Regions from separate parts of the Homo sapiens genome. Here all the other regions are reported to be linked to region 2. The links are microRNA targets in miRTarBase. Many come from high-throughput screens and were not tested one by one. Region 2 holds a microRNA gene; each other region holds the end of a gene's coding sequence.
What was found. The annotated mature microRNA hsa-miR-708-5p reads AAGGAGCUUACAAUCUAGCUGGG and lies in region 2 at 2,147-2,169, shown strand. An mRNA with a match to its seed (bases 2 to 7 or 8) in the 3' UTR can be bound and repressed. Matches are read on the target gene's strand: a 7mer-m8 pairs with bases 2 to 8, a 7mer-A1 pairs with bases 2 to 7 and ends in A, and an 8mer does both.

Region 1: miRTarBase lists TMEM88 as a target of hsa-miR-708-5p. The part of its 3' UTR that is shown has no 7-base or 8-base seed match.
Region 3: the mRNA of SEC14L1 is a reported target of hsa-miR-708-5p. Seed matches in the 3' UTR shown: 7mer-m8 at 1,891-1,897.

What each region holds. Positions count from the first base shown.
Region 1 is chr17:7,855,155-7,858,180 of GRCh38, forward strand. It overlaps TMEM88 (transmembrane protein 88), which reads left to right. Exons shown (of 2, transcript NM_203411.2): 1 at 1-130; 2 at 291-945. The coding sequence ends at 560. It overlaps NAA38 (N-alpha-acetyltransferase 38, NatC auxiliary subunit), which reads right to left and starts at 2,405. Exons shown (of 3, transcript NM_001320925.4): 1 at 2,229-2,405; 2 at 1,861-2,044; 3 at 1,531-1,689. The coding sequence starts at 2,309. The coding sequence ends at 1,577. CYB5D1 (cytochrome b5 domain containing 1) reads left to right here and starts at 2,849. Exons shown (of 4, transcript NM_144607.6): 1 at 2,849-3,026. The coding sequence starts at 2,981. RefSeq lists enhancers at 831-1,368, 1,490-1,569, 2,102-2,964, 2,220-2,589, 2,317-2,611 and 2 more.
Region 2 is chr11:79,401,113-79,404,245 of GRCh38, reverse strand. MIR708 (microRNA 708) reads left to right here and starts at 2,137; the gene lies at 2,137-2,224. All of the region lies in intron 1 of TENM4 (teneurin transmembrane protein 4), which reads left to right.
Region 3 is chr17:77,213,782-77,216,914 of GRCh38, forward strand. SEC14L1 (SEC14 like lipid binding 1) reads left to right here. Exons shown (of 17, transcript NM_001143998.2): 17 at 137-3,133. The coding sequence ends at 242. Among named protein-coding and RNA genes, the nearest start is that of LACAT1, 38 kb to the right of the region's middle.

The DNA.
Region 1 (3,026 bases), not on the chromosome of region 2:
CGCTGTTCTTGTAACAGCCCAGAATCTGCTGGTGGCTGCCTTCAATCTTCTCCTGCTGGTGCTGGTGCTAGGGACCATCTTGCTACCCGCTGTCACCATGCTGGGCTTCGGCTTCCTCTGCCACTCTCAGGTGAGCGTGCGCCCCGGGGTGTGCGTGTGAGTGTGAGTGTTGGTGTGTGGTGATGCTGGCGGTGGGGTCTATGGGCCACAACTTCAACCCGCCTGGGCTGTTTCCACCCCGTGCACAGTATCGCCTGGTCGGCTTGGGCCTGACGCCTCTTCTCCCACAGTTCCTGCGCTCCCAGGCACCCCCTTGCACCGCGCACCTGCGGGACCCCGGTTTCACGGCCCTACTGGTCACCGGATTCCTGCTCCTCGTGCCGCTGCTCGTGCTTGCTCTGGCCAGCTACCGCCGCCTCTGCCTGCGCCTCCGCCTAGCCGATTGCCTCGTGCCCTACAGCCGAGCCCTTTATCGGCGTCGGCGCGCCCCGCAGCCGCGGCAAATCCGGGCCTCACCAGGGTCCCAGGCCGTTCCCACATCAGGAAAGGTCTGGGTCTAATGACCCTCGAGTCAAGAACAACCCTGACGGCTGCCCTCCCTCTTATTCGGCCCAAGGACTTGAAGCCCGGCATCTTCCGACCTGCCCTGCCCCCACCCCTGCCTGAGCGGAGTCCTAGCATCCCCTTGGGAGCAGCAGCGTCAGTGGACCCAGTGCTGAGAAAAGCCCCCACATCCCGGAAAACCCACTTTCCTTTCACGACCCACATCTCAATCCTGAACATCTAGGCTGGAACCTGCACACCTCCCCCTCAGCTCCGTCGTGAATGGGACAACAATCTCGTGCCCTCGTTTTATGGTGCAGCTTCTCTAGTATTTCTGGGGCTGGGGGGCGGGGCTGGAGGGGAAGGAGTGTCCACGCATCAATAAAGATTTAACGAACTGAACGCGCTCTGCGAACAGAGGCGTGGCACAAGTACTATCACCCCTGCCCTGTGCCGAGGAACAGGAAACATGTGCCAGGGCTACAAATGAGCAGAGAGGAGCATCCTTGAGCCCCCTGGCCTTATCGCTTTTGTCCGTTCTTCCTGGCCAGACCTCAGAGATCTGTTCCTGACCCCAGGCACCTCCCCCTCAATAGAGTGGAGGGGCCCAGCCTCGGCCGCCTGCCGCTGCTCCCCTTGGGGACCTGAGCCCGTTCTCTGACCCCAGCTTAGAGGAACTCGGTGTTGCCAGGCCGGGGTGGGAAACAATGGGCCTTCCGGAGCAGGATGACACCCCCTCCCGCCACAATTCTGGAGCAGCAGCCGTGGGAGGGAAGATGCAGGGGCCCACCCTGGGGCCTGTTGGTCCGTCATTCAGCCCTGCCCCCCATCTCTACCCCTGAACTTGAGAGAACCTTTGGCACCCCTGGACATCTTGGTTGGGAGAGGAGGGTTGAGGGTGCTCCCGACTTCAGATGAGCCCTTTCCTCTAGGGATGGGGTGTGCTATCCTGCACCGGCATCCCAGCTACACACAGACACAGGCCCATTCGGTCATAAGTTTAATGAAGTCTGAAAGGTAAGCGCCATCGTGGTCAGAGATACGGAGGCCCGGTCAGACTCTCCCTCTGCACCTCAATGGAAACGATGTGGTGTCCGGGTACCATGGCCAGGCCCAGCACACGGGGCTCCCCGGCAGAGAAGGAATCTGGAAAGAAGGATCAGAGCATCAGGAAAGTAGGCCAGAATCAGTCCCGCCCCTCTGAGCCACGAAAACGAGCCCCAGAAAACAAGGGTTGCAGCCAGGCCCTTAAGGGGAAATGCCTTGCGTAAGGTTCCGCCACATTACCAGGCGGGTGTGCATTCCCCGGGCACTGACCCGACGGCTTGAGGAACTCCTGCGCCGAGCCCAGGATGACATTGCAGTCACGGTCAGTGCAGAGGAAGCAGCCGACCAGTGTCCGTCCATCTGTCATGCGAATGCGCATAGTCTTGTTGAGCAGCGCCTCTAGCTGCTGTCGGGCGCGCTCAGCCGCCGAGTCCTCGCGCTCTCCGTCCGAATCCTGCGCGGGGTGTAACAAGCGCTCAGACCGCGCAGCCCAGGCTGCCCGCCCGCGGAACCACAGCTCCCGGCAGCCCGCGGGGCACTCACACAAAGCCCAGAGGCTGCCGGGAGCTGCAGTTCCCCACCCCCTCCATCTTGCTGCTTGACTGCCCCTCAGTCCCAGAACCAGAGCCCGTGCTAACCCCAGCACTGGAGCTGCTCTGACGCCGACTGCAACAGCCATTCTCTTCTCGTAGCAGCATGGTCGGTCCAGCTCCGGCCATTTGCCCGGAGGCCTCCTCTGGGCCTTTCAACTTCCTAAGCACCTTTCAGGTTGGGTGGTCCGAGATCTCGCGAGCGCTCCCGACCTCTTTCCTTTCGCGAGATCCCCTCTCCTCCCCCTCCTAGTCTCCTCGGCAACGGCACAGATCTCGCGAGCTTCTCCTACTTCTCTAGCGCTGTGGCTCACTGAAGCGTACTACGCCGGATGTCTTAAGATATCGCGAGACCTTTACCTCTGGTTTCTTACACATCCTTTAGAAACTGGAATTTAGCGAGAATACATTCTTTCATACTGCCTCCTCCCTTGTTTTTCTGTCTCAGAGAGATAGTCTGTCCTAAATATCCCATGTAGCCCAGGCCACTGAATTAAAACGGAGCGTATTCGTTCTCTGCCCCACCCCGCAACTCCTGAAAGCGGCGCAACTCAATTACTTGATCCTTATATGCCCCACGCGGGACTCATACTACGTTTCCCGTGAACACGTGCAGTCCAAACCCCGCCCCTGATATTTATCTCAGTGGACGGTGGCCGGAAAAGGACAATGGTTTCCATGTCAGCGGATAAACGCTCTCCCCTCGGCTCCCGGACGCGACGGAGGTCGTAGTAGTAGTGAGTACGTGCTGAGGAGCAAAGGAGTAACCAAGAGATCCAGTGACCGACAGAGCAAGAGCCATGCCGCGCCGGGGCCTGGTGGCTGGGCCAGACTTGGAGTATTTTC
Region 2 (3,133 bases):
GCAATTGAAACCAAAATGTCTGTGTGAATTCATTTAAAAAGCAGATTTTCTTTTCCACAAAGGATTTGGGGCTGTTTGGGGCTTAATTATTATGTCAGGTGATCCAGCTTTAGTCCAGATGAGGACCCTTTGTAAGAAGCTTTGCCATGAGGGCAGCAGCTTCAGCGGAGGGTCAAGGTCCTTCTGAGCTGGGAGGCTGAAATGGAACACATGTGGCTCTGAGCCAGTGAAGTGCTTTCTTGGGACTGCCCTGCTGTCCAGGAACTGAAGCTGGGTTCAAATGCTGACTGTCATTCTCTGGGCATGTGACCATGGCCAAGCTAATACACATGATGAGCCTCAGTTTCTGCATCTTTGAAAGGGTGATCATTGTGAGTATTTTGCAGAGGATTAAATGAGATAAGACTGGTGAACCACCCCCACCACCCCCCTCAACCCCCCGGATTTTTTGGCCTCATAGCTTTGCTTCTATGCATGAAGTGCTGAATGCCATTTCTGGTACTGACTCAGATTCTTCATGTGCCAGTCTGGGTACTGACTTGTGGAGTGGATAGTGGTTGAGGGAAGACAACTGGGGGTGGGAGGAATGGGAGAATGTGAGTGTCGAGGGGTGGGCTACCTCTTGGGCACTGGCAATTACATGACAGTGGAACAGCATTGCAATTTAGTTTTGTGTTTTTCATTGTAACCCAACTGGCAACAGAACAGTGATGGGAGATGGAAAGGGTATCAAATTTGACTAGTGAGTTGCCCCTTTTGGTCCCTTCCTTAGAGTAAGCCTCAGTTTCTTCATCTGCAAAATGGAACTATCAGTGCCTTCTCTGACTACCTCGCAGAGTTGCTGTGAAGAAAAAGTGAGATAAAAATGTACCTGAAAGCATTTGTAAAATGTAAAGTGCTGTATAAATGTAACTGATTATTGTTTCATTTAAAAGACATGGTTTTGTTGATATCTCATGAAAAACAGTGCTAGTCCTCCCATTTAGTCATGGCGACAACCTTTTTGTCATAAATGTGCATGGGAGAATCGTTGGTTAGTAGGTGTTTTCCTTTATCCAAGTGGTCTGAGCTGGAAAATATGGAGAATTCCTTCACTAAAGGGCCATATCTTTTGACTCTATTGACAGCATGTCATGTGGAACTCAAAACTGCCTTCGTGAATGCAGATAGATTGCATCTATTAGCTGCCTCTTGTCATCATGACCTGCCAGAAGGGAAAATAAAATGTGCCTACAAATATTTCAATATTTATGTTGTGTGAAGGTTTAATATTCATTTGGAGCAGTGAATGGGGAAAGAGAAAAAAAAGTCCACATCCTTTACTTTGGAAATTGCTCAGTTCAACAAGAATTTATTGAGTACCTACTATGAGCTAGTGAGTGAATGATATGCTAGTGTCTACCAAAGAAAGACACCAAATTCTAATATTGACAACTTCATGTTTGCATACTTTGTCAGAAGCCTTGGAGAATCCCAAGGTCAGGAGTCTTTGCTCATTCCTATGGGGGAACTGATGAAATCTGCCCAGAGGTTGGGGAAGAGGGAAGTAGGTGAAATGGCTGCAGAGGAGAGGTGTTTGTAGTAAAATTGGGGAAGAGAGGAGAGTGGGAGGGGGTGGATCAGACCTCAGAAACACACTCCTACCTGTTAGGATGTAGGTGTGTGCTTGCACTTGTGGGTGGGACCAAGAGACAGGTGTCAGTAGCCTGGAGTTATAAAAACCAAAATGCATTGAATAATTGGATGGGAAACCACACATAAGAAAAGGACTCTTAGCAAGTGTATTTTTTCCAGCAATGCAAAAGTGAATTTACAAGCATATTGTTGTAGCTGTGAAGGGGCAAGCTCTACTAAAGGGATAGATGGTACATGAAAATAAGTTGTAAAATGTTGTTAATTGAAGAATATGTTGATAATTTGTGTCACTGATATTCAGTGTTTTGAATATGTTGTCATTGTCATTTCTCATTATGTAAAAATATAATAATTTTACAAGTTCACTGGTGACTTCATTCCCCTAACCCTATTTTTTCCCCAATAAGGTCCTAAATTCCTGAAGCCTGACTTCTCCTGCCCCAGGGGTTTTCAGAAACCTAACCCCCATGGTTGGCGAGGGACTGCTGTGTGTGAAATGGTAACTGCCCTCAAGGAGCTTACAATCTAGCTGGGGGTAAATGACTTGCACATGAACACAACTAGACTGTGAGCTTCTAGAGGGCAGGGACCTTACCCTAGTCATCTCTCTTCTCACCCTGCACACCCTCCCTGAGGGATCTCATCCATCCCCATGGCGTCAACCACCACCTGAGGACCCTCTAGGCCTGAATTGTCTCCTGAGTGCCACACCCAGCTCTCCAGCATCTTCAGTGTTCCTCCCCGGGTGGAATGCTCCACAGCACTGCCAACTCAACCTGCTCACCAAAACCCAGCTTGTCATATCTCCTCTGGGCCAGCCCTGGCTTCCAGGCTCCTGGACTTGGTCCCCCAGATCAAAGATCCAGGGGTCACTCATTTGGACTGAGCTTGATGGAAAAGTGCTTATGTTTCAATGTTAAGTAAACTGGGGAGCCTATCAAATGTATAGACATGATGAACTCATTGATGTTAAGTACATAGATGGAAAGAGAAATGCTTCAGAATGTATTAGTGGTTGCCTCTAATGGTAAAATAATGATTGACGTTTTCTTTTTCTGACACCCTTGTGCTTTCCAAATCTCCTGCAAAAAGTATTTATTACTTTTGTAACCAGCAAAAATGCCTAATAAAAATGATTGACAGGTCTCCATTTGAGTGTCACCTTTTCTGGGAATTATTGTTTATTCCTTTGCATCTCAAAGAGTCTGAGGCTCCGGGGTTAGACAGCCTCAGCACGTGTGCTTACCCTGTTGGGGAACTTGTTGCACTGTGTTCTTTCTGTAAATCGGCTCTTCCATTAGTCTGTGAGCTCCGAGAGGGCAGGAATCATGGTTATTCATCTCTCATTTCCAGTGCCTAGCACAAGGCTTGCATACATAACTGCTCAATACATGCTTGTTCTTTAAAGGAAGAGAGGGAGGGAAGGAGGCAGGAAAACAAAAAGGTGAAGGACACCAGAATTCTCAAATGTTATACCTCCATGGATCCCTTGTATTAT
Region 3 (3,133 bases), not on the chromosome of region 2:
CCCCCGTTTGCAAGCACTGATGGGGATGAGAAGTGAGCAGAGAACAGGGTGGGCCACGAAGTCCAGCAGGCAGTGTGGGCCGGCGGGTGGTTGGCAGGGTGGTCCTCACGCCTCGCCCCTCCCTGTGCCATTACAGAGGTTCCATGACGAGCCTGGAGTCCAGCCACAGCGGCTTCTCCCAGCTGAGTGCCGCCACCACCTCCTCCAGCCAGTCCCACTCCAGCTCCATGATCTCCAGGTAGTGCCGCGCTGCCTGCACCTAGTGTGCAGAGGGGACGGCCGCCCCTCCTCGGACAGCCAGCTGCACCCGCCCACCCAGCGGCGACATTGTACAGACTCCTCTCACCTCTAGATAGCAAATAGCTCTCAGATGGTAAACGTAGTCGTTTGATCCCAAAACTACCTTGGCAGGTAGTTTTAACTCTGATCCTAACTTAACTCAATAGCCATAGATTTTGTATACGTTGTGCACAAAATCCAACCAGAGCGCAAGGGCTCTCTTGAAAGAAAAGTAGTTTCTGTACCAATTAAAGGATTGACGTGGTCTCAGATATTGATGCAAAAAATTTTTCCAACGAACTCCGCATTGTCCATTAGTGAATGAATTCCTGTGACATCCTCCAGAGATGGCCCCTCCTCACCTGGGACGGAAGCTGCCAGCTCGCTTCCCCCAAGCTGCCTCATGGCCCGCACGCCGCCTCACGGCCCCCATGCTTCCCGCCAGTCAAGATGGTCTGTGGACTTAGGGCCAGCCCTTGAGGTCCTTATCCTCTGAGGATTCAGAGGTTGCCTGCGGAGTACCTTGTCCCAGGGCCAGACACACCCACACCACCCACTGTCCTGCAGTGGGGCCGGGGGCTCAGGAGGGGCTCTCAGGGACTCCTGGTGACTCCAGGAAAATGCTGCCATCGTTAAACATTACTTTCTCTTTCCTCCTTTTCAAATCTTTTTGATACTTTTTAGAGCAGGATTTTTCTGTATGTGAACTTGGGTGGGGGGGTTCTTCCCGTTTCCTTCCGTGCGTCGCCCCTCTCACCTGCAGTCAGCTCCCAGCCCAGTGTAGGCCATCTCCTCTGTGCCCTCTGGTGGCTCATTGTCCTCAGAGCCCAGACAGTTCCAGCCACTAGGAGGCCGTCTTGGAACCAGCAAGTCGCATTTGCCACTTGACACTGTCCATGGGGTTTTATTAGTAGCTAAGCAGCAGCTCTCGCATCCACTTCAGGGTGGCGTGTGGCATGTAGGAGTCCTGCTTCTTTGTACATGGGAATTGTGGACTCATGCGTGTGTGTGTGTGCATGTGCTGTGTGTGTGCATGTGTGCATGACGGTGGGGGTGCTGGGGGGACGGGGTGAGTGGAAACTTAGTTTGAGTAATGAAGGAATCTTCACAGAAGCAAATCAGAATATGGGATTTGTTTGCCTTTTACATTTTGTTTAATTCCTGATTTTAAAGCCTGCTCTATCTGGTACAGGCCCTTATTTTTTCAGCTTTTTATGGGAAAAGCAGGTTATTTGAGAATCTGTCCAGAAGTTGCATAGGGGATGGCCTCCACGATAAGGACATGCAACACGTGTTTCTGTGTGCAGCAGAGGCCGTGTTTTTCATGCCAAACCCCACGCGGCTGTCAACTGTGTGCGTGGTAGGCATGGAGATCCTGGTTGTGCCGTCTCAGCTCCGCTCTGAAGGCACTGTGTGGGTGCTGCGTGACTGGAGAGCTGTGTGGAGGCCATGTGTGCCCCGTGCAGGGATCAGGAGGGCGGGGGAGGGACCGAGCAGCCCTCTTGCCCGGTCGGGTCAGCCCTAGTGGCTGCCTGCACACTGTAGACGTCCCAGGGCCTGTGCTGTGATCACCTGCCTTTGGACCACATTTGTGTTTGCTCTTAGAGATCGAGCTCCTCAGTGGTACCTGAAGCCTTTGCTTCCGGAAAGCGCGGTAGGGTTCGTAGGTAGGGCTAGTAGGTAGGGTTAGTAGGTAGGGCTAGTAGGTAGGGCTAGTAGGTAGGGTTCGTAGGTAGGGTTCGTAGGTAGGGCTGGTAGGTAGGGTTAGTAGGTAGGGCTAGTAGGTAGGGTTAGTAGGTAGGGTTCGTAGGTAGGGTTCGTAGGTAGGGTTCGTAGGTAGGGCTAGTAGGTAGGGTTAGTAGGTAGGGTTCGTAGGTAGGGTTCGTAGGTAGGGTTAGGTAGGGTTCGTAGGTAGGGTTAGTAGGTAGGGCTAGTAGGTAGGGTTCGTAGGTAGGGTTCGTAGGTAGGGCTAGTAGGTAGGGTTAGTAGGTAGGGCTAGTAGGTAGGGCTAGTAGGTAGGGTTAGTAGGTAGGGCTAGTAGGTAGGGTTCGTAGGTAGGGTTAGTAGGTAGGGCTAGTAGGTAGGGTTCGTAGGTAGGGTTCGTAGGTAGGGCTAGTAGGTAGGGTTAGTAGGTAGGGCTAGTAGGTAGGGCTAGTAGGTAGGGTTCGTAGGTAGGGTTCGTAGGTAGGGTTCGTAGGTAGGGTTCGTAGGTAGGGTTAGTAGGTAGGGTTCGTAGGTAGGGCTAGTAGGTAGGGCTAGTAGGTAGGGCTAGTAGGTAGGGTTAGTAGGTAGGGCTAGTAGGTAGGGCTAGTAGGTAGGGCTAGTAGGTAGGGCTAGTAGGTAGGGTTCGTAGGTAGGGTTCGTAGGTAGGGTTCGTAGGTAGGGTTAGTAGCGCGTCTGTGCTGCTTCCACCTGGTGCTTCCTGTTCCCAAATCACAAGGGCCTGAAGGTGGTCCCTGCTTTCTCTTTCTCTTTCTCTGTGTCTCAGATGGCGATTTTGCTGACAGCTGCCAAGAAAATGCTTCACTCAACAGTCCTCATGTGCCCAGAGATGTTTATAGAACTGTTTGAATTGCAGCCATCCCCTGCCCCCTCCCAGGCTGAAGATCTGTTCTTTTTAAGTTGATTCGGGAGTGGCATTCTTTTATACCCAAAGACTGTAGTGCATCTTGAAGAGCTCAAAGCACATGACCGCACAAATGCTTACAGGGTTTCCTCCCGAGTAATCCAATCTCACTCCCCTTGTAAGGGAATTCTGGGGCAGCTATGGTTTGAGTATGCAGTTTGCATCGTGTTTCTACCTTTAGTACCTTGCCACTCTTTTAAAACGCTGCTGTCATTTCCCATTTCTTAG